7 linked regions of the Homo sapiens genome follow. The protein of the gene in region 6 purifies or fractionates together with the protein of the main gene of each other region. This does not show direct contact. Each region holds a gene or a part of one and is shown on either strand. Other genes may lie near its edges.

The links.
Region 1: the proteins of PEX14 (region 6) and PEX10 purify together in Homo sapiens (co-purification; one study listed by BioGRID and IntAct). This does not show direct contact.
Region 2: the proteins of PEX14 (region 6) and ABCD3 purify together in Homo sapiens (co-purification; one study listed by BioGRID and IntAct). This does not show direct contact.
Region 3: the proteins of PEX14 (region 6) and PEX2 purify together in Homo sapiens (co-purification; one study listed by BioGRID and IntAct). This does not show direct contact.
Region 4: the proteins of PEX14 (region 6) and EVA1C purify together in Homo sapiens (co-immunoprecipitation; one large-scale study listed by IntAct). This does not show direct contact.
Region 5: the proteins of PEX14 (region 6) and TCP11L1 purify together in Homo sapiens (pull-down; one large-scale study listed by IntAct). This does not show direct contact.
Region 7: the proteins of PEX14 (region 6) and PEX3 purify together in Homo sapiens (co-purification; one study listed by BioGRID and IntAct). This does not show direct contact.

What each region holds. Positions count from the first base shown.
Region 1 is NC_000001.11:2,406,520-2,409,564, forward strand, and holds part of PEX10 (peroxisome biogenesis factor 10), read right to left. Parts: intron 2,340-3,045; coding exon 1,933-2,339; intron 437-1,932; coding exon of another isoform or gene 377-436; coding exon 201-376; intron 101-200; coding exon 1-100.
Region 2 is NC_000001.11:94,424,889-94,428,388, reverse strand, and holds part of ABCD3 (ATP-binding cassette sub-family D member 3), read right to left. Parts: intron 288-3,500; exon of another isoform or gene 1-287. UniProt on the Homo sapiens protein: Broad substrate specificity ATP-dependent transporter of the ATP-binding cassette (ABC) family that catalyzes the transport of long-chain fatty acids (LCFA)-CoA, dicarboxylic acids-CoA, long-branched-chain fatty acids-CoA and bile acids from the cytosol to the peroxisome lumen for beta-oxydation.
Region 3 is NC_000008.11:76,993,579-76,997,078, forward strand, and holds part of PEX2 (peroxisome biogenesis factor 2), read right to left. Parts: intron 1-3,500. UniProt on the Homo sapiens protein: E3 ubiquitin-protein ligase component of a retrotranslocation channel required for peroxisome organization by mediating export of the PEX5 receptor from peroxisomes to the cytosol, thereby promoting PEX5 recycling.
Region 4 is NC_000021.9:32,419,206-32,422,705, forward strand, and holds part of EVA1C (protein eva-1 homolog C isoform 1 precursor), read left to right. Parts: intron 1-617; exon of another isoform or gene 618-3,500. UniProt on the Homo sapiens protein: Binds heparin.
Region 5 is NC_000011.10:33,046,072-33,049,571, reverse strand, and holds part of TCP11L1 (T-complex protein 11-like protein 1), read right to left. Parts: intron 1-3,500.
Region 6 is NC_000001.11:10,477,950-10,481,449, reverse strand, and holds part of PEX14 (peroxisomal membrane protein PEX14), read right to left. Parts: intron 1-3,500. UniProt on the Homo sapiens protein: Component of the PEX13-PEX14 docking complex, a translocon channel that specifically mediates the import of peroxisomal cargo proteins bound to PEX5 receptor.
Region 7 is NC_000006.12:143,485,305-143,488,804, reverse strand, and holds part of PEX3 (peroxisomal biogenesis factor 3), read right to left. Parts: intron 1-3,500. UniProt on the Homo sapiens protein: Involved in peroxisome biosynthesis and integrity. Assembles membrane vesicles before the matrix proteins are translocated. As a docking factor for PEX19, is necessary for the import of peroxisomal membrane proteins in the peroxisomes.

The sequences.
Region 1 (3,045 bases), 8.1 Mb from region 6:
GAACAGGTGGCCGCAGGGCGTGGCTGTTGGGTGCCTGCGCTCCTCCAGGCACAGGGTGCACAGGGGGTTTCTGGAAACGGCTCTCTCCTCCAAGGAGGCCCTGGGGAAGGTGGGGCAGAGCGTCAAGGTGGGTGCACCTTACAGGTCCTTGTGAAGTGCCCAGGACACCCCCAGCCCCCATGTGTGGCCCCCGCACGCACCTGCGGTGAGACAGGCCGCGGTGCAGCCTCCACTCCTTCCTGGCTCGCTGCCGCTGCCTGAAACCGTACAGCTGCAGCCCCATGGACAGCACCAGGTGCAGCAGTGAGATGACCCCCAGCAGCCTGTAGCTAACACGGGCCCTCAGGTCCTCTCCGGGCAGGCTGCGGACACGGAGCTGTAAGGCAGATGGCGCCACACTCATCAGGACCCTGAGGGGATCTGGCCTCAGCGCCTGCTGGGAGGGTCACACGTTCAGTTGGCACAGAGCACGTTAGAACCAGGCCTCTCACTGGCATGGGGAGTGCCCGGCAGAAACGATCAAGCCAGGGGGCAGGTTCAGGGAGTCTGAGGTGCCTGCTTCGTAGCCTAGCATGACGGAGAGGCCTGAGCTCCAGACCAGCCTTGGCATTACCAGTGCAGAAAGAGTCTTAGCTATGAGGCTGGCAGAGCAGGTGAGGATGTGGGGATGTCCAGGGACCACCTCTCAGAAAAGGAGGCGGGGAGCGGAAATGTGGGGCTGCAGACGCTGCCCACCAGCTACCCTGCTACAGGGACCGAAGCCCCAGTGTAACAAGGCACGTGGCCCCAGGGACACTGCTGCCACCCTCCTGCTGGTGACACAGGTAGCTTCTGACCGTGCCACTGAAGGACAGCTGGCTGCCCTCGGCTTCCCGTGTCACTTTCCACTGGCTGGGAAATGGAGACAGCCAGACAGCCTCGGCCCAGGGCCGGGAACCACATACAGAGGTGGCAGGTCACACCGCCAGCATGGGCCCTGGGTGTCCAGCCACTTCCTGGCTGTCCTAGGAGAGAGGGAGCCTCCCATCTGGTTTGAGCCCCACTTCCATGCCCCTGTCACAGCAGCTCATCAAATCCCTCACCAACATGGACGGGGCAAGAAACCACATCAAATACGCAAGTGAGGCTGGGTACGCTGAGGACGAAGACCTGACCATTGGCTCTGCGACGAGGTCACGGTGGCCTCCTGTTTAGGGTGTGTGTGGAGGCGGGGTTGCCTGGCAAGTAGGGGCTGAGGGGACCAGTGCAGCTCTAGGGACAAAAGGAAGGGGGTTCCTCAGAGGGCTGTTCTGGAAGGAGCTCATGCAGTAGTGGCTCTGGTGGGCCAGGGACTAACGCTGTGGCAGGTGGACATGGTGGTGGGACCACGGGGGAGGCTTCGTTGCTGAATCTGGAAGCAGGGGCATCAGCTGGGGGTCAGGATAGGCAGAGGTGCCAACGGCTGTGGAGGGGAGAAGGTGGGAACGGCCGTCTGATGGGGCAGACTGCTGGGCCAGGCAGGGGCGAGGGGTGAGGGGCTGGGGCCGGGGCTGCAGTCCATGCTCCCACACTGTCTGGGAGAAGCTGTTTGTTCCCCACAGCAGTGACATAGGCAGTCACGGGCCCAGGTTCAGGGATCTGTGGTGAGGCGTGACCCGGGGCCCCCCGGTCAGTAAAGAGCTAAGCGCAGGGCCCGGTGTCCATGAGGGGCTGCAGCAGGAGTTCATTCTACACTTAGGGTCTGGACTTCCTTGGATCTTTCAGCCAAGTGTAATTAAACAAAATCTGCTTTTTTTCCAAGCAGAGGATTTGGGTTCCTGCCTTGACACAGATGCTGGATGTAGAACCCTGTTGGCTGAGAGGCCTGGAGGGCCAGCTCTGTGCATGCACCCAAGTCCAGTGGGGGTGACAAGGACGGCCTAAGCAGCTGTGCCCTCAGCGCCTGCTACTTACGTACGTGATCCCCGTGAGCCTCTTGGCCAGGTGGTAGAAGACACCGTGGATGTAAAACCAGGCAACATGTAGCCGCTGGAGGCAGGCGAGGCCCTGTCTGAGGACGAAGACCGCCCGCAGCAGCGCCCTCCTCTGCTGCTCAGTCAGGGTGGCCGTGTGGTGACGCATCCAGCGCCGCGCCCCTGAGCAGCCACGCCCACCTGGCCCCAGGCTCCCCTGCAAGGGTCGCCCACTGTCGGGGTCAGCCTGCAGCTCCTGCTCCAGGGGGAGCAGGGCCTTGTCCAGCAGGTAGGGCAGGACGGCATGCAGTGTCACCAGCACGCCACGGCGCAGCGAGGAGGGCACATGTATCCGCGATGGGTCCACCTGGATGATGCTGACGTACTCCTCCCCCAGGGTCTGGTAGCCTGCGAGGAAGAGGATGGGTATGTGGACCCTGAGACTGCTGCCGCGGGGACAGGCTCCCGGCGCCCCTGCCAGCCGACCCTCTGCTGGCTCCTGTCAACAGCCCCATCTTGTCGCCCTTGAGCCCACTGTCACCCCGTGCTGGCTGAGGCCAACATGACCTTCTGTCGCTAAGCCCACTGTGAGCTCAGGCAGCACATGACAGGCCCGGCCAATGGCTGCCCTTGGCTCCCAGGGCCTTGGCTGGCCAGTGTCCCTCCCTCTCTTGGCTTCTCCCCAAGAGTCTCTGCTCTTTCCCCTTTCTCCCTAGCTGTCCCCGCCACCTCCCCCAGCCCAAGCACTCGGATCCAGTCCCATGGCTCTCCACCAACCACACAGCTGGCACCACCCGATTTATGCCCAGCCTGGACCTTACTTGTGAGTGCCAGCCATGCAGGTCCGCCACCTACCTGACATCGCCATGTATGCTCAGATGAGCACCCCAATTCCACCCCTGCCGAGACAGCTTTCAGCGCCCCCACCCAGAAAAGCCTGCTCCCCGTTTCCATCTCTGTGGATGGCAACGCCAGGCCTCCGGTTCCTGAGGTCAAGCCCAAGGGGCACCCTGCATGCACCTTCCCTGTGTGTTCCACCCCCTCGCTGCCGCCCCTGCTCTGTACCACCACCATCCTGTGGGGGACTGTCACAGCCTCTGTAGTCTCCCTGAGC
Region 2 (3,500 bases), about 84 Mb from region 6:
TGCTTTTTAATGCCAATAAATGTATTAATAAAATATTAAAGTCCAAATAATTTAAGCATAGAGTAAATCATATAATCCACTTTTATGTCAATTATTATAGTACCATTATAGTGGTGAGACGGCTACATCTATTTACAGATATCAAACTAGCTGATTATGCTTTGATGAGCTTTATTTTCAATTTTATACTTTATTAACTTAACTGCATTCACTCGGGCCTGCTAATCTAGCAAACTGATAAGAAAGGTGTGTTTAAAAAAACACTTTTCCATTTCTCAATCTTGTGGCAAAAAAATAAAAAATAAAAAAAAAAACAAAACACCTTTTAGCATACTCCTATTTTACCTAAGAAGGCTTCAAACCATCTTAATATTTATAATAGTTCCACTGTATTACATAAATAGCAGTTATCCAAAGAATTTTATCCTTAACTTTATAGAAGGCTATATTCTTGACAGAGATGCCTAAAACAAAAGTGACTTACTCTTAAAAAGAATGTTATGATGAAAGCCATGTTTTTAAGCAAGGGCCTGATGCCTAATTTTATGTAGAAATAATATAAATGCCATTTTAAACAACAGTTACATAAAAATCTTTCCAAAAGAACTAATAGGGTCGAGCACAGTGGCTCATGCCTGTAATCCTGATACTTTTGGGAGAACAAGGCAGGCGATCGCTTGGAGACCAGAAATTCGAGACTAGCCTGGTCAACATAGTGAAATACCATTTCCCGTAAAATTTTACTTAATTTAGCAGATAAAATTCCAAAGAAAATGTAGGAAGATCCTATCTTTCTCCTTCATAATTCAAGTTCATATTACATTGAAACAGATTAGAAGGTGATATTCATCAGGTCATGGATGAGTGTGATGTTGATCCTAGGAAAAAAGTTACAACTTACTTATCTAAATGGGCAGTATGGCATGGGTACTTAGAAGGAAGTGGTAACTTTTAGGAGAAAATATGAATTCACCAAAAAACTATGTCAGACTAAGGTCATTCTTTTCTTTGAAAGGGACCACGAAATTTTTGTAAATTTTGTTCACTATGCTACAAAGCATTTGATGATAAACAAAATCAGGGTTTCTGCCCTTTCCATGTAAGAGACCAAGGCTAATACAGTTCTAGGGTCTACCTTCACACCTCTGTGACAGGAAAGAAAGACCCTTCCCCACACCAGCTCCAGCAGAAACATCCCAAAAGAGGACTCTGGCCCAGTATGCATCAGGTTATGGATACTGTCAGAATGCCAGGTCTACTACCAGAAGGAAATGTGTGAAAAGATGCTGGTAAGTTAAAAATGAGAGCCAATACAATAACCAAAGGGTGTCAATTAATAGAAAGATTATAGTGGTGTAAACATACTGTTCTATACTCAGTCCTGTCCAATCAGTTTTTTAAGTTTGTTAGGAAAACATACAGAAGGAATAGTAATTAATTGTGCAGATCAAAAAGTTTCAGAGGGAAGAAGTAATGTGCCCAACCAAAAATAAGTATAAAGACCTGCACCCAGGTTTAAAAAAAAAAAAAAAAAAAAAAATTCAGGCTGGGCGCGGTAGCTCTCACCTGTAATCCCAGCACTTTGGGAGGCCGAGGTAGGCAGATCACCTGAGGTCAGGAGTTCAAGACCAGCCTGGCCAACATGGCGAAACCCCATTTCTCCTAAAAATACAAAAAAATTAGCTGGGTGTGGTGGCGGGTGCCTGTAATCCCAGCTACTCGGGAGGGTGAGGCAAGATAATCACTTGAACCCGGGAGTCGGAGGTTGCGGTAAGCCAAAATTGCACCACTGCACTCCAGCCTGGGTGACAGAGCAGGACTCCATCTCAAAAAAAAAAAAATCAAACACATCAAGGTGAGGAGGGGGAAAGAAGGGAAAACCATTGTGAAAGCTAAATACAAGTGAAAAATATTTGAGAGTCATAAAAATGAATGTAACTTCATGCTATTTTAATGAAAGCTTAACATCTTAGGATCTTTAATGAAAGCTTAGGACAAGGTAGGTCACAGTTCTCTGCTAGTGTGCCAGTGAGAAGACACTTTGAATGCCGAATTCCATTTAGCAATGCCTCTTTAAAAGGTGGAGAAATAAAGACTGTCATATTCAGGAAGCAGCAACTGAAAAAATACAGAAACCTAAAACCATGTCACATAAAACTAACTTAAGATACTTTCCAACTCTGAAAGTAAATGATTCTATCAATTGAAAAAGGCTTCCTTTGGGAGATTTTCATGGGTGTATCTGAGGAAATTAGGAAGGCTCGGGAGTTTTTAAGAAGCTAACAAAGGTATGTTTTGTTGTCCTTTTAGTTTTCTTTTAGCAAGCATAGAAATGAGAGCTACCTTTTATTTACTGAGCACTGGGTTAAAACGTTTTCTCCATTAATCCTCACTTAACTGCTGAGTGAGTGAGTAAATACTACTATCCCTGTTCTACTGAGGTTCAAAGAGGTTAAGTAAATTGACCAAGGTCACAGATCTGACAAACGGCCAAAGGAAAAATTGAACCTACATCTGACTCTAAAGACTATTCTTTAACACTATGCCAAACTACCTCCATAATAAAGATCAAGTAGCTGCACAAAAAAATGTTCATTTTTGCAAATTATAAAATACGTGCAAATTAAAATAATCTTTCAAGACTATTTTGCATCCGTAAAGTAGAAAAAAATTTAAATATCCCCTAATGATGAGTAGGTAATTAAGTCAGCATTCATTCATAGTACTGCAAATTGGCACAACTCATGAAAAGTAATACATCAACCTGTGTAGTTTAAGAATGCCCACAGTTTCCACAAACACTAAGGAAATTCATAAGCCTCCATTCATTAATCCTACTTCTGGCAATTTATTCCAAGGAAGTTATTCAGCAGAGATGAAAATGTTCACTTGCAAAAATACACCAGTATAATCCATAAAAATTCCAGAGACAGTCTAGATCCTCAATAGCTAACAGGAAAATAAACTAAGATATTGTCACACAGAGGAATATTTACGTATTTCTTTAAAAGTATAGTTATGAAGGTCATGTACAGGGAAATATAGGAAAGAGGTATGCTTTAAATGAAAATAACAAAACATGTACGTTATAACTGTAAAAATGCACATAAATACAGAATAAAAGGAAACAAAAATAAAACAATATTTGTATTATGGTTATAACATTATGGATGATTTTTAATTTTCTTAAATTGTCTTTAATGTTTACACTCTATTAAACTGTCAAAAGCAGGTGATGATAGCATTTTTTTAAGTTTCTGAGACTTGCTTTACCTGTACATATAGGGGGTATAAGTGGTCCAGCTCCTAAAGAGCTCATAAATATACTAAAGACAACATTTACATTTGTAGCAAAAAGAATGTGTTATTTAAAACAATAGTAACCACAGCCCCCAAAAAATGAGAATCTCATTTGTTGTTGTAGAGTCAAACAAATATGAGTGTCTACTATATATTCCAGCCACAGTTCTAGCCACTGGGGCTATAACTGTGAATAAAAT
Region 3 (3,500 bases), on a different chromosome or scaffold from region 6:
AAGCTTTAACAATTTCTATATTATTGGTCATTGTAAATTAGTATTTAGTTTTATAAATGTAAGCTCAAACTTGAATATTTTTAAAAATTACAAGCTGCTTTTTGTAAAAAGAATTGCTTTGAATTGAACCACCATTAAATTTAATTCTAATAGATTTTTCCTATTCTACCTTTTCATACACAATCCTACCAGCCACCCACTCCTGCAATTCTCGACCTATACTAACTTTAAGATTCCAAAATGCTAACCCAGGGGAGGGGAGAGAGATATTTATTGGCTATGCAAAGAGATATATAAAAATATGTAACTAAAATTATAATTGGCAGTAAATAATCTTAGCATTTAGTGAAGGATTCTACCATGTTAAGGATATGTGAAAAAGATGCTTAAGGCAAAATCAAGACCAGATAAAAAGTATAGCATCTACTAGGGTTCGTGTGATTAACTTGTCACATAAATATGTTTAAGACAAAATGATCTAGTACTAAAAACTATTAAAAGGGTCTCCTGCTGACATTTTATCACTAAACATGTCACACTGCTTTTCTTTCACAGAAAAAGACAACTAAAAATTATTTACTAAGAGCAGCAATATATAACCTTATCCCTTAAATAACTCATGCTTTCCTTTTATGTTTTTCATATCCCAAAATAAAAACTTTGCCATCTATATCACATTCCAAAAACTAAACAAATGACTGTATCTCACTGAGGAAGAAGGAATGTTTCAGGATGTATTTTATAGTTTTATTGAGTATAGTACAAATTATGAATGAATATATTTTCTTTAAAAACATGTTATTGACAGAAATCTATCAATAATAATGTGGGTATTGTCAAGGGCCTGTCAATATTAACGTAATTATGATTAAGGGGATAACATGGATTTTAGCTATAATACCATGTAACATCTCCTACATCGCTGCTATCAATATACACATTATTATTGACCTGTTCCAAGACTCTCAGTATTAGAGGTATTACCATTAGGCATATTTGTCAATGCATACTGTCTACAAAATTCTGCATTTAAATTTACAGTCCTGTAAACTTTGTCAGCAGAAACGTGATTCTCAAGTAATCTCTACTGTGTCATACCCACTCATGCACCCCCTGCCAGGCTATTCTTTTCCATCTCCACAATAATAAACTAAGTTTTAGAATGAAAATGTCACTGCCACACCATCTTAAATGTTCTGGCAATCAAAGTGGATGAGACCACGTTCATTGTTTTCTCTTTCTGAAAATGTTAAACTAGCATTTCATATTATGAGGTTATATGAATAAAATTCTATGACTAGACATCTTAAGTTTTGAACCTATAACCTACTATTTTATTTCCTTTGTGTAGTCAGATAGATTTACTGTCCAATGTATTGAAATCAATACTAATAAATGGGACGTGCATCAAAGAGGGATTTAACTGGACACTGATTCCCAGAACACGTTTCAAATATGGGCAAAAGAAAAAAGGCTATGGCTGAAGCCCATTAGAACACTGTGACCTCTGGCACTGTGAACAGGCCTAACAACTCTTAAGTTCAAATCCCGCTTCTGTCACAGACTTGCTAAGTGCCTTGTCACTACTTTCTCGTTCCTCTCTTTCACCATACATAAACTAAGTTTTAATAGTTTATAGACACCTGATGTTGTAAATCCCAGTTGTGCTCATTTGGGTATAGCCAAGATATGTGAAATTTTAAAACTGTGTTATGTCCAACAGACCTCTAAATTACTTTTAACTTCAATGAACATTGCCTCATCAAAATCCAAATAGGATTTTTCTTTTTGAAGTGGTAGTGGATACATGACAAAACATTTCTAAAATGTATCTGAAAGATAAACTTCAAAGTTGCACATATTTCTCAAAAATATGGACAATGGTAAGTAACCTGCCCTAGAAGAGGGGAAAATATCTTTTTTTTTTTGCATTTAGGGAGAAGAGGAAACTCAACACAACTCAAGATTATATTGAGTCTTACACAATCAACTGAGTGCCTTACTTATCTCATACACAATATAGTTATTCAAGTATCTAAAACTAGCACAAAATACTTTTTTTAAACCTTAGAAAAGAATTTCCAATACTTGGGCCTAGCTTTATAAGTATATTTTTAAGATAACAGCATGGCACTCATATTTTTTTCTTTCAGAAACCTGATACTTCTGAGTCTGAGAATGCTTATTGTGAAAATAAAGAACAGATGTTGGAGCGAGTATTGGGGAAAGCAGAGTTAAACTGCCTCTGATTAGCTCTGTATTCTAGCCCAGGTTCACTAACAGATTGTGTGACTCTAGACAAGTCATTTTATTACACTATACTCTTCATTGGCTAAAAAAAGAAACAAAAAAAAGCAACTGTAAGTTTACCTACCTATCTAGAATCCTTATAGAAACTGCTTTAGGAAATCTTGCAAGGGAAAGGGAAAAAAATGAACAGCTATTTCCAATTGCAAAAGAGCAATACAGGACATGAGGAAAATAGAGAAATCAGAGCAGGACACAGGAGACAGAGACAGTATTCATGGAGAGTAACAGTAAACCACTAAGGAAGACAATCCCAATGAACTTGTTAGTTTACAACCAGAGAAAACACTTAACACCTACCAGTTACTGAGTGCTAACAAGTGACTACTATAGCTAATTACCAAGTACAAATTTAAATATTAAATCATTTAATCCTTATAATACTAATAAAGAGCTTCTGTTATTACTTCTGTTCTAAAACAAGGAAATTGAGGTGCAAAGAGATTAGATGACTTGTGTGAAATCCCATGACCAGAGGGGGCAGAACCAGCTCTAAACCAGCGTCCTATACTGACAACGCGGTAATGGACCCAAAAGTTAAACATAAACACTTTAGGATGGTACCACAGGTCACACAGATGGGGCTACCTTAAAGAGGCCAAGTACTAAGAGTATAGGCACAAACTATGGGAAAAACACTAGTGCGAGTATGAACAGGACACACATGAAATGTATGAGCAGCTAGATGTTTAAATACTCTATAAATAATTTAAAAATGGGCTTTAGAATCTAATTGCTTAAGAATTCTAAATGACTTGAAAATAACTGGAACAAACATTTAATTGCACATTTTATGGTACAAGAGAACACGGAAATATCCCCAAAGGAACAAAGAGCCATTAGCAATGGAATAGGAGGAACTACCATGTGATACATATCATGTACAAGGCACTACAACTTTTCTTTACATTCTTTATTTCATTTAATCCTCACAACACAGTAAGTACAGTATTATCATCTCCATTTTAAGAAGATAAAAATTAAGGCTTGAGAAGATTAACAACCCATCTAAAGTCAAGCTGGTAATAAGTAAATTTATGGTAAACATCAGAAAAACTGTAGAACATACAAAATACACTTAGTAGAATGGACATTTGCTAAGCTTGGATCAAATTTAATCCCACAGAACTCAAAAGAAATCTTTTTCCCCTTCAAGATCATTCAAAAGACCAGACTGCCAGTCAAGCTGTCAG
Region 4 (3,500 bases), on a different chromosome or scaffold from region 6:
TTTGGAGGTCACTGATCTTCACAGCCATCCTGTTGGCTTAATATCTTTAAAATTCTTAGTGAGGCACCACTTTGAGGGTAATGTACTATGAGAGAACAATTGCTCCCTCGTTACCCACCCCTATTGCCTGACTTGCGTACTGCTCTCCCCAGCTCCACAGCTGCTAATAAAATTTAGAAGCAGGATTTGAACCCAGTACCTATTGGGTTTTAAATATCCATACTGATGGCCGGGCACTGTGGCTCACGCCTGTAATCCCAACACTTTGGGAGGCCGAGGCAGGTGAATCATTTGAGGTCAGGAGTTTGAGACCAGCCTGGCCAAAATGGTGAAACCCCATCTGTACTAAAAATACAAAAATTAGCTGGGCATAGTGGCATGCTCCTGTAATCCCAGCTACTCGGGAGACTGAGGCAGGAGAATCACTTGAACCCAGGAGGTGAAGGTTGCAGTGAGCCGAAATCGTGCTTCTGCACTTCAGCCTGGGTGACAGAGCGAGTTCCTGTAAAAACAAAAACAAACAAAAAACAAAAACAAACAAACAAACAAAAAAACATACTGTCACTGAAGCTGAGCAATGGACCAAGAAGGTGGGAGCGGGGGTGGGGGCTGGGGGGAGGTCTGAAGTTTTATGATACTTTGTCACTATTTTAATGAGGCTGGTATATTTGTATCCTTCTGTAAGGAAATGGTTTCTCATAATAACATAAATCCTAAATCCTACAGTCATGAAGATTTTAGTACTGGAAAAAGAATCTTGGGTTGGAAAGGCAGCTGACCAAGTGATTCTGGTGTCTTCTGAGTTTCCCCTTGCCCCTTGGGGTATCTCGTTCTGCCACCCCTTTAGTTGGCTCCCATGTGTGCACCACCGGCTCAGCAGAGGCAGTAACTTCTTTACTTGGTTTCCCTCAGTATGAGTAAAAAAGTTGGTGAGTTAAAAATACTTTTAGGGTTTTAAAAAATTTTTACAGCCTGGCCCATAGGGTGAAACCTGTCTCTACTTAAAATACAAAAATTAGCCAGGCATGGTGGTGGGCGCCTGTAATCCCAGCCACTCGGGAGGCTGAGGCAGGAGAATTGCTTGAGCCTGGGAAGCGGAGGTTGCAGTGAGCCAAGATCATGCCACCACACTCCAGCCTGGGCAATAGAGCGAGACCCTGTCTCAAGAAAAAAGAAAAAAAATTATCTTTTACTTTTGAGATAGGGTCTTGCTCTGTCACCCAGGCTGGAATACAGTGGTGCAATCACGGCTCACTGCAGCCTCAACCTCTGGGGCTCAAGCCATCCTCCCACCTCAGCACTCCCTAGTAGTTGGGACTATAGTCACATGCCAGCAGGCCTAGCTAATTTTTTTTGGCATTTTTTTTTTGTAGAGACAGGGTCTCACTATGTTGCCCAGGCTGGTCTCAAACTCCTGGACTCAAGAGAGCCACCCGCCCTGGCCTCCCAAAGTGCTGGGATTACAGGAGTGAGCCACTGTGCCTGGCCCTAAAAATAATTTATTAAGCACATAAAGCACTCTATGCCAGACACTGTTCAAAGAACTTCATGTTAACTCATTTAATCCTCCCAGTTGTAGCTATAAAGGAGATGCTAGTATAAAAAGTTCAAGAAACTGAGGCAAAGAGCAATTTAGTAACTTTTGGGGATTTGAATCCAGGTAGCCTTTCTAATACCAAGGGAATAAAACAAAATAAATTACATGCAGTTTAAAGCAGTGGCACTTCTGTCATGTTTATCTCTTCATTTCCTAGAGCCAAATCTTTCCCAGGACTTACATAAGTAATGTCCATTCCTTGTCCTGTTTAAAGATAGTACCATCTAGCCTCAAAGAACTGATTATAGAATTGGGTCTGTAATTTGTTTCTGGAAATTGGTGTTCTGAAACTATTTCCCCAACAAAACACCTAGAAATGCTGAATAAAATATAAGAAAAATCTTTTAATGTATAAATGAGTGGTGAGGAAACAAAAATGAAGAGAGAATAGAGAACTAGGGATGATAGCTGGTGCTAACCCTATGGCTACGTTGGAGTTGCTTGATGGTCTTGACAACGAAGATTTAACAGGTGCCTGAGCGCAGGCGATAAGGAGTGAGACCACTGTATAGTGAGGAATTAGAATAAAGACCTCTATATAAAGCCAGGACTTTGAAAACCTAAGCCTTCATTAAAAGGTGGATGTAAAACAAATCAGCCTTCTTGTAAAGAAAGATGACAAGGAAACTTGTCATAGCCTAGGTTCAGGATTGGAGAAAAAAATAATGTCTCTTGAGATGGTGTAATCAAAATTCTGCCTTTTGGAGAGTCTGGGTTTTGAATTCATATTACCTTTACTGGGAAACCCAAGTTGAGAAACTAATAAAGTTGTCCCATGATACCTGGCAAAAACAAACACACAGATACTGCCTTCATGGGAATATCATCAATATAGGCCCATCTATAGATTCCTATAGCTAAAATGCTGCTGATTATGATCACACAATTCAAAATTACATTATATGAGCAGTAGTCAGCAGCAATGACACGGTTCTTAAGTAATAAAAGAGAGAATCTAGGTCTGGGCATGGTGGCTCATGCCTGTAATCCCAGCACTTTGGGAGGCCGACGTGGGTGGATCACCTGAGGTCAGGAGTTCAAGACCAGCCTGGCCAACATGGCGAAGCCCTGTCTCTACTAAAAAATACAAAAATTAGCTGGGTGTGGTGGCGGGTGCCTGTAATCCCAGCTAGTTGGAAGGCTGCGACATGAGAATCACTGGAACCTGGGAGGTGGAGGTTGCAGTGAGCTGAGACTGTGCCACTGCACTCCAGCCTGGGCAACAGAGCAAGACCCTGTCTCAAAAAAAAAAAAAAAAAAAGAGGGAATCTAAAAAGAAATTTAAGAAGGAATCTAAAACATGAGAAAGGAACAAAAGGCTATCGAGAAAAAACAGGTGTATTTGTAAAAGAATCAAAGATATCTACTAACATGAAAAATATATTCATTGACATGAAAAGCCTGATGGGTAGGTTGAAGAGCAGATTAGGTATAGCTGAAGAGAGAAACAGTGAGGTGGAAAAAAAAGCTGGAGAAATTATCCGGAATGAAGCAAAACAGGTAAACATATGGAAAACATGGAAGAAAAGTCATAAGACATGGAGGATGGAATGATGGTTGAATATACATCTGATCAGTATTCCAGAAAAAGAAAGTAGGGAAAAGGAGAGAGAGGCAACACTCAAAGTGATGGTGTCCTAGGATTAATTTTTAAGGATTGATGAAAGATTCAGAGTTAAGCATTCCAAGGAAGATAAATAAAATAAATTTATACCTGAATGTGTCATACTGAAACTGTAAAATACTAAAGACAAAGTGACAGTCTTAAAAGCAATCAGATAGTAAAGGAAATGTTATCTATAAAGTCTTTGCTACAAAAACAGTGGGAGCCATAGACAGCGAAATAATATTTTCCAGGTTCTGAGAAACAAACAAACAAAAAACAACCATCAGTCCTGAATTA
Region 5 (3,500 bases), on a different chromosome or scaffold from region 6:
CTGCTGACCCTCTCCCCACTATTACACTATTGTCCTGCCACAACCCCCTCTCCAAGATGGTAGAGATAATGATCAATAAATACTGAGGGAACTCAGAGACAGGGTGCAGGTCCCCTGGGCCCACTTTTCTTTCTCTATACTTTGTCTCTGTGTCTTATTTCTTTTCTCAGTCTCTCGTCCCACATGACGAGAAACACCCACAGGTTGTGGAGGGGCAGGCCACCCCTTCAAAAATAATCAATGTCTTACCATCTGAAATTTATGAAAACAACAGAAATACATCACATCAAGTCCTCTGGGTGAATTTTTTTTTTTTTTTTTTTGAGACGGAGTCTTGCTCTGTCACGAGGCTGGAGTGCAGTGGCGCGATCTCGGCTCACTGCAACCTCCGCCTCCCGGGTTCAAGTGATTCTCCTGCCTCAGCCTCCCAAGTAGCTGGGACTACAGGCGTGTGCCACCACACCCAGCTAATTTATGTATTTTTAGTAGAGACAGGGTTTCACCATGTTGGCCAGGATGGTCTTGATCTCTTGACCTCATGATCCACCTGCCTTGGCCTCCCAAAGTGCTGGGATTATAGGCATGAGCCACCGCGCCTGGCCGGATTTGTTATTTCCCAATAATTTTAGTCATCTGGGTAATAATAGGCACCGTTACTATGCTGCCTAGTCATGAAACACAGTGGCTGGAGCAAATCAGGAAGGAATTTCACTTCCTCTGGACTCTGTTGAGTACGGCCTTGAACAAGTCACTTAAATCTTGCAGGGTCAGTGTTTCTCCATATGCAAAAAGAAGAGACTTAAGGGTGTGCTATGAAATATAAGAATCCTCCGAATTTTAAACAAGTGCATTCTCAGTGTTTTGGGCATACTTGGAAAAAAACAGCTTGCACCAAGTACTAAGAACCTCACCATTAGGAAGAAGAAAATTTTCAGGAACTGTCCAAGTTAAGAGACTACTTAAAATCAAACTTATCAATGACAGGTATCTGATCATGATAGATAAAAGCTACAGTTCTAAGATATGATCAGGACATGTTACCGATGTACATACAGAGGAATTATTCACTGCATACAAATTATAGGGTTGTGGGGATTTTGTTTTGTGAGAGTTCTCAAATTTACCAATTTCATAAATGAAAACTTGGTAAGGATTGCATAAAATTGCATAAAGATGCAATTTGGTGGACAACACGTCTTCACCTCAATTTGTTAAGAGAACCTGGGTTGTAATAAGAGCCATGAAAAATGGTAAGGTCAACTCAGACATGGTGGTGCACACTTGTAGTCTCAGCTACTAGGGAGGTTGAGGTGGGTGAATCACTTGAGCCCAGGAGTTCAAGGCCAGCCTGGGCAACATAGAGTGATCCGGTCTTAAAAAAAAAAAATGTAAAGATACATGTAACTTACCCTGGAGTTTATCTTACGTGATACAAAGCTAAAGTTGTTGCTAAATTTTGTTATTTTGTTACAGCATTTGCGCACTGATGCCCTGTTAGAGAAACTGAAAACCATATTAGGTTAAACATGACTTTAGAGAGGCTGGCAGACAGATTCCAAAATAAAATGAAGTTCTAATTTAGAATGGTTGTACTCTCTATCTTTACTAAGGTGTCCTGAGATGCCTATACACTCTGAAAAGATGCTGTTAGTTACATAAGTGGACGGACATTTATGGAGGGCAAGATTGCAACTGTCACCCAAACAGCTACTATAGAATGAGCACAGTAAAACCAGGGTACAGATTACCCATAGTACTTATTATGTTGTTGGAAACTGCTTGTTAATTTGTCTTCCTGGTCGCTAGCCTGCAAGCTCCATGAGGACAGAGACAATATGTGCCTGGTTCACTGCTGGATCCCTGACATACAGTATGCACTCAATAAATATTTGACTGACTGAATACAGAGACACCATAATTCAAAGTCTAGTCATGAGCTTTAGAAATGTAAGTTCTCGTGTCATCTATTCATCTAAAGATGACTGGGATCTACTAATTAAATTCACAAGGACCTGATCCAATAAACAAAGGTCCTAAGTGGGAGATATTAACTGGAATAACAATTGATGTTTGTCATCTGAATATAGCATCTTTTACTGGTCAACTAGGTGATTAAACGTTAGAACAGAGGGTATTTTGTGAGAAGAGCATTAAAGTATAAGTAGTAGAAGATTTTAGAGAAAACATTGTTAAGTTACAGTTGACTGATCCTTACTCTGTTTAAAGAACAGATAATCTTTTACAATCAAATCACCACCTCAAATCAGTACCAATAAATTTTTTACAAGCCAGCCATTTTTCCTTTTTCAATATTCTGCATCGGTTACATCAGAATTCTACTCTTTTTTTTTTTTTCTTGAGATGAAGTTTCGCTCTTGTCCCCTAGGCTGGAGTGCAATGGCACAATCTCGGTTCACTGCAACCTCTGCTTCCCAGGTTCAAGTGATTCTCTTGCCTCAGCCTCCCAATTACAGGCACACACCACCACTCCCGGCTAATTTTTGTATTTTTAGTAGAAACAGTGTTTCACCATGTTGGCCAGGTTGGTCTCGAACTCCTGACCTCACCTCAGGTGATTCACCTGCCTCAGCCTCCCAAAGTGCTTATAGGCATGAGCCAATGCGCCTGGCCTAGCAACTCCACTCTTAAAGTATTACTCTGTGTTATAATTTAAAACAATAAATGTTCTCTTTTTGCTACTTACGTTTTAATTTGTAGAATTCCAAATATGATTTTAGAGTTACTTTAAACTCAGTAGCTACAAATTTACAGAGTTTGGGGGAAATGTCTGTAAACTGTTAATTCCATATTTTGTAAATCCTTATTTATGCTCTATGTGTTCAATAATGCTTCCTTACCTGATGCCCAGATAATGAGGTCTTAGCTTTATCTTTTGGGTTTATAGCCCTGTACCTACCTAGCACTACAGGAGAAATAGGAAGGCAGCCAAAAGGAATACCTTAGGGCATTGATTTTAAACCTTATTTTGGTACAGACTACTAAGAGAACTTAATGAAAGCTTCCACGACCTTATTCCTAAAAACATGCATATACAAACAAATGTTGATATACTTTTTTGGTTATTACTAGATCCCCTAAATCTTGATCATAGGTCCCAGGATAAGTATTCTTGCCTTAAGGGCATAACTACACACAATTTCAGATAATGTAGCTTAGTACTGGTTTGACATTAATTTGGAATCATGCCATCAGGCTGACAAGATGCCAAAGGCGAAGCCATCAACCAAAGAATGGCTGAACCTATAAAAGTTAAAATTGTTTAAAAAAATTAAAACCAATCAACCAACTGTTGGGAGAAGCTAAAGCAGGGCTTGCATGTCTCACTTAATGTAAAAGAGTCTTGGAACATGTCCAGGGTCCAGGGTCTAAAACCCCTCATGGCCTTGGGAACACCAAGCTCTGTGCTAAAGGGCAGAAGGCTGCCCTGCAGCACCATAATCTAAGCCCAGGGCATAAAACCCTTCGTGGCTTGAATGGAA
Region 6 (3,500 bases):
CAAACAAACAAACAAAGTTTAAGGCTGGACGCGGTGGCTCCCAGCACTGTGGGAGGCCGAGGTGGGTGGATCACTTGAGGTCAGGGGTTCGAGACCATCCCGGCCAACATGGCAAAACCCTGTCTCTATTAAAAATACAAAAAAATTAGCCAGGCATGGTGGCGGGCACCTGTAATTCCAGCTACTTGGGAAGCTGAGACAGGAGAATTGCTTGAACCCAGGAAGCGGAGGTTGTAGTGAGCCAAGATTGCACCACTGCACTCCAGCCTGGGCAACAGAGCAAGACTCTGTCTCAAACAAAAAAAAAAAGGAAGGAAAGGAAAAAAAAAAAAGACTAAAGAGACAAATCAATGCAATCTCTGTTTCTTCACTAGATTCTGATTTTTTTTAAGTGTGAAAATTTGAGTGCAGATTCTGTTTTAAATAATACTATTTATCAACACTTAAATTTCTTGTGTGATAATGATATTGTGGTTATACAGGGGAATAACCTTACTCTTATGAGAGATAAGGTGAAATATTCTAGGATGAAATATCCTTGATGTCTGTAACTTACCACAAATCCTTCCAAAAAAAAAAATATATATATAGAGAGAGAGAGAGAGAGAAAGAGAGAGAGAGACTGACATAAAGCAAATTCAGCAAAATGTGAACAGTGCATCTTGGTTAAGTTTTTATGGGAATTTTACAGAAGTTCTCAGTATTATCCTTTCAACTTTTCTATACGTGAGAAATTTTTCAAAATAAAAAGTTGAGGCCAGGTGCCAGGCTCACACCTGTAATCCCAACACTGTGGGAGGCCGAGGCAGGTGGATCACCTGAGGTCAAGCATTCAAGACTAGCCTGGCCAACATGGCAAAACCCCATCTCTACTAAAAATACAAAAAAATTAGCTGGGCATGGTGGCGGGCACCTGTAGTCCCAGCTACTCAGGAGGCTGAGACAGGAGAATCGCTTGAACCCAGGAGGCAGAGGTTGCAGTGAGCCGAGATTGTGCCACTGTACTCCAGATCGGGAGACAGAGCAAGACTCCGTCTCAAAAAAAAAAAAAAAAAAAAAAAAGTTAGCCAGGCGTAGTGGCACACACCTGTAGTCTCAGCTACTCAGGAGGCTGAGGCAGGTGAAGCAGGAGAACCGCTTGAACCTGGGAGGCTGAGGTTGCAGTGAGCCGAGATTGAGCCACTGTACTCCAGCCTGGGCAACAGAGGGAGACTCCATCTCAAAAACAAAACAAAACAAAAAAAAAAAACATTGAGAGGGCAAATACCTTGTCTGACCTGCTGTTATTCAAGAGTTCAACAGACTCTCAAAACTACATGTAAAGACTGGGAGAAGAAAACTAACTCTGAGCACTTACTATGCAGCAGGTGCTCTTCACATCTGTGATTTCAGTCAACACTAAAAGGGTAATTATTTTTTATTTTATTTATTTATTTTTTAAGTGATAGGGTTGCACTCTGTTGCCCAGGCTGGAGTACAGGGGTTTATTCACATATGTGATCATCGTGCACTACAGACTCCAACTCCTGGGCTCAAGCAATCCTCCAGCCTCAGTCTCCTGAGTAGCTGGAACTACAGACATGCACCACCACACCCAGCTTTAAGGGTAACTATTATTGCTCTCGTTTTACAGAGGAGAAAACATACTCAGAAAGGTGGAGTGATAAGTCCAATAGTTGTGAGTGATGAAGTTCCACCAAAACCTGCCAGGATGCGAAGCCATGCTCTTCCACTCTTTCACTCTGCTCTTCTCCCTGCCTGCTTCTGTAGCCTCTCAATGCAAAATTTACTGTACCCAGTGAACCTCCACAGATAGGAAATCTACCTTCTGCAATAATACTCGATACTCAGTAACTGTGAAGTAATCAGATTGAACCATGCCTCTGCTGTTCAGCGAAGGAAGAAAAGCTAGTAGGAAAGTTGGGAAATAGAGATAACGTTTCTCATTCCTACGGGCTCCAACGTGTACACACTAGAAAGGACTTCAATGAGAGATCAGCCATGCTGGCTGGGCGTGGTGGCTCATGCTTATAATCTCAGCACTTTCTCTCTCTCTGTCTCTTCCCCCGTCCCCAAACAGGGTATTGCTCTCTCACCCAGGCTGGAGGGCAATGGCACAATCACCGCTCACTGCAGCCTCAACCTCCCAGGCCCAAGTGATGCTCTCACCTCAGCCTCCAAAGTAGCTGGAACCACAGGCAAGCACTACCATGCCTGGCTAATTTTTTAATTTTCAGTAGGAACGAGGTCTCCCTATATTGCAAAGGCTGGTCTCAAACTCCTGGCCTCAAGCGATCCTCCCAACTCAGCCTCCCAAAGTGCTAAGATTACAGGTATGAGCCATCACGCCCAGCCAGGAACTCACCACTACAAAAATTGTTTTAAAAATACATTAGCCAGGCCAGGCACAGTGGCTCACACCTGTAATCCCAGCACTTTGGGAGGCCGAGGTGGGCGGATCACGAGGTCAGGAGATCGAGACCATCCTGGCTAATACGGTGAAACATCGTCTCTACTAAAAATGAAATAAAAAAAAAATAGCCGGGCGTGGTGGCAGGTGCCTGTAGTCCCAGCTACTCTGGAGGCTGAGGCAGGAGAATGGTTCGAACCCGAGAGGCGGAGCTTGCAGTGAGTTGAGATCGCACCACTGCACTCCAGCCTGGGCGACAGAGCGAGACTCTGTCTCAAAAAAAAAAAAAATACATTAGCCAGGCATGGTGGTGCACACCTGTAGTCCCGGTTACTCAGGAGGCTGAGACGAAAGGATTGCCTGAGCCTGGGCGGGCAAGGATGCAGTGAGCCATGATCACACCACCGCACTCTGGTGACAGAGTGAGACCCTGTCTCAATCAATAGATCAACCACATAAAACAGAGCAATGTGGGGAACACAGAACAAAGGAAGCAATAAATGAAATTCCAGCAAGTCGTCTTGAGGATAGACTAAAAAGACTATACCATTATGAAAAAGTAAGTATGTTCCTGAAATGCAAAAGTCATGAAGGACAGCTAGAATAAACACTAGCATTCAGGGCATTCCTTGAAATTTTAAGGAATTACTTCTGAATAAAAGAACTTTACTAGACAAGTAGTCAACACATGAAAAATCATACCCCAAAAGATGTCGTAATAGAACTTGAAGAAAGGTTTAGATCCATTTGTGAGTGAAAACTCAGAGCTTATTAAATTGAATAATAATAATAATAGACAACACATTGTTTCAGGCACTGTTCTGGCATTTTTACATAAATAACTCATTTAAGGCCAGGTGCAGTGGCTCACGCCTGTAATACCAAGCTCTTTGGGAGGCCGAGGTGGGCAGGTTACCTGAGGTCAGGAGTTTGAGACCAGCTTGTCCAATATGGTGAAACCCCATTTCTACTTAAAAAAAAAAATTAGCCAGGCCTGGTGGTGCATACCTGTAGCCCCAGCTACTTGGGAGGCTGAGGCAGGAGAATCACTTGAACCTGGGAGGCGGAGGTTGCAGTAAGCCGAGATCGC
Region 7 (3,500 bases), on a different chromosome or scaffold from region 6:
GACATAACACGGTTAAGGGTGTATTACTTTCTAGAAGATCTAACATACGGTATGAATATGTGTAGTAAGTGCATATTTTACATATACACACATACATGAACCACACATATACACTATAGTGTAAGGGTTATTAACACCCCAAGGGATTTGCGAATGTGAAGATAAGAAAAAAATTACACCTTCATTTTCTTTAACTTCTAACCAAAATCTGGTATCTCTTTCAATTATGAATGTAGGCAACAAACTGTGATAATATTAGCAGGTTGTATGACTTTGTCTTCAATAGAAATCATAGGCATTTTCATGTCATATGACAGTTGTGGAAGTTATCAGAACTCTCATTATATCTTGGTATTTAATGCATGAATAAAGAAGCAATACCGCTATATCATACACTTAATTTTAAAAGAAATTTTGAAAACTATATATGATTGGTTTCCTTTATAATATTATGTATTTTATTGTATGCACTTATAAATATTGTTCTGAGAAGGGGTCCATAGGCTTCACCAGTCTGTGAAAGGGTCCATGATAGAAAAGGTTGACAGCCTCTGAGAGTGTCAAAGAAATGGGAAGTAAACCTGTCCCTAGTGATCTCTGTTTCTTAAGTATCGGAAAATCCAAGTGAGGTTTAGACATGTCCTAATCTCAATCAATTCATGGTTAAATTATCTCATCAGAGAATTTGATGTTATTTAGTTTCAAGTATTCAGTCTAGGTGTTCAATGAAACATAGGTTTAGATCAATGTTTCTCAAACCAGAATTTACAGACATACTTTCAGGGGCCCAAGAATTTGAGGGGAAATTTTGTGTTTTGATTTCTATGAAAATGTAAAGAAAACTCAAACACGCTCTTGATTATTGAGAAGATAAAATATATAACCTACTATTGTTCCTGATTTTAGGGCATTTGTTTATATTTATGTTCTTATTGGCTTTAAGTAACATTACTTTAACTGTCTTGTGCTAATGAGAGAAGAACAGAGGCAGAAAATCTTTCAAATGAAGACCAAATCATGTAAAACACATGATACAAATGAAGCTTTCAGAATAGTTACAGTAGATAAAAAAAAAAATACTAGCAAGTCAGCTTCAGAAAATGCAGGCTGAATGCTCAACAGCATGAACAGTAGCAGACAGGTCCACATTCACTTTGGCACAACAAATTATTAATAGTAGACGTCAGCCATATTATAGAACAATCTTTTTTTGTAATTTAGATTCTACTTGACAATAAAAGTGCTTTGGTTTTGAGTTACGAAAAAGCTCTAATCTTAAGGATCTTATTGAGTTTTTAATTTATACACTAAAAATGATTTAAACACTGGAGGACTGTGGTATATGTGTGTACATATGTATGTGAGGTGTATGGACAAATCTGAGAAATACTACCATTGTAGTGCAAAAGCAGCCATAAACAACACATAAACCAATGGGCATGCTGTCACCCAATAAAACTTACAAAAGCTGGTGCTTGGCTGGATTTGGCTCATAGGTCATAGCTAACTTATATCAGCTTTATAATAAAGACTTTAATCTGTTCAAATACTGTATCCTGATGCAGCTTCTAGGATGTTTCAGTAGTCTGAGATAAAAATTATGTATCATAGGGTTGGTTCACACTATAAAAGCTCTTTCCTTATGTTATCTGAAAGCAATCTGAAATAATTTATCTCCTGCTTATGTTATTTGAAAGCTATTTGAAAATAATTTGAAAAACCACCTTTCTCGATTGTTTTCTGATTCTCCCATTTCCTACCTTTACCAACTACCATCCTAATATCTTCTACCAAAGGGGTCAGCAAAGTATGGCCTGCAGGCCAAATCCACTGCCGCCTGTTTTTGTATATAAAGTTTTGTTGAAACAGCCATACTCTTTTGTTCATGTACGTTTCTGACTGCTTTCACACTGCCAGAGCAGAGTTGAATAGTTTCTGTAGAGAATGTATGTTGCATTAAGCCTAAAGTATGTACTATCTGGCCCTGTACAGTTTGCCAAACCCCTGTTCTACAGCATTCCCACCATAGGCTCTCCTACACACCATTGTAGTTGAAGTAGTAGCAGTAATTCGAAAGGACTAATTTTATGTAAATTAGCATTCTAATCAAGGCAAAGGCTTTATAAAAAGATAAGTGGAAATAGTAAAGCATATGACAATTTATTAAGAAGACCACTTGGTATTTTAACTCATAGAAATTATAGTTTAAAAAATTAAACTATAATTGTAATAGCCTTGTCAATCAATGGTCTAGTATATACATTTAATATACATCCAGTTACAGTAAAAAACTTTACTAAACATTAGTATCAATGGCGTTTTTACCATATTGAAACATTTGTTTTTATTATCAATTATATCGATTTTAATTAAAGTGTAGTGCATAAAATTATTTAAGCATTAAGGCTGATGATGCTTTATGCTTGGTTGTAATTTCCACTCATCTGTCAAAATGAACAGCCTACTGGCCAAGCCAGGGACTTCTACAGAAGAGGACAAAGGTAAAGGTAAGGTTTAAATGCCCCAAGTTATGACCTTTTTCTCACATTGATATAGATGTGAAGCTTAACATTCAGTAAAATGAGATCAGTCTTATTCACTATTTCTTCTGCAATATGAGTGCCAAGCTCTTAGGGGTGAGAAAGAGGACAGAAGACTGAAGAGTCCAGTGTGGGAAAATGTGCATGTGAAGGACAGGCTGATGACACCACAGTGAAAGGAGGAAACGAACTCTTAGTCTCAGTGCTCTCCACGTTCCCAAGAGTAAAAAGTCTACAGAGAGGATACACTAAATTGTCTGAGACAAGTTACACTAAGAAGATGTCAGCTTTATGCTTAGGCCATAGGGTCTCTTCTCATTGTACATTATTGAAGCAGTTTGCAACTGGCATTGCAAACAATTTTTTAACTTATAACACAGTTTCCAAGTTTGCACATGACTCAGAAATTCAAAGTTATTTTGTTTATAATATTTGTCTTACTCAATGAATTACTGAATTACTCAATGAATTACTGAATTACTCCATGCATTCCAAATGGAAATGAAGAAATAAGATGGAGTTATAGGTAGTCTGATAAAACATTTAAATGACCCACTGTTTATGTGGCTTTTAGTGAGCATATTATTGATGCACTATTAACTGTTACATTTTATTAATCACTAAAATGCTTTACTTCTCCACAAATTTTTTTAGTTTTCCTCAAAATGTGTAGAACAGGATCCTTGATCTGCCCCAAGGATCAATCTTCTTACTAGCACAGCTTAATGCAAACATTCATGCTATATAAATTCAACTGACCACTATAATACACCTGGACTAAAATGTAGTCCCACAGTGTTGGACTACAACACGGAGAAAGGTACTCCAAACTTACACATTTGCTATGGTCCGTTATTACTCTCATGGGACACTCTACCATACTCTACATGTAGTTCCAAGTTCTGTGATTTTTTGAAAAAACCTCTCAGCAGAGAATGTAACTTTATGTTAGACAAACAT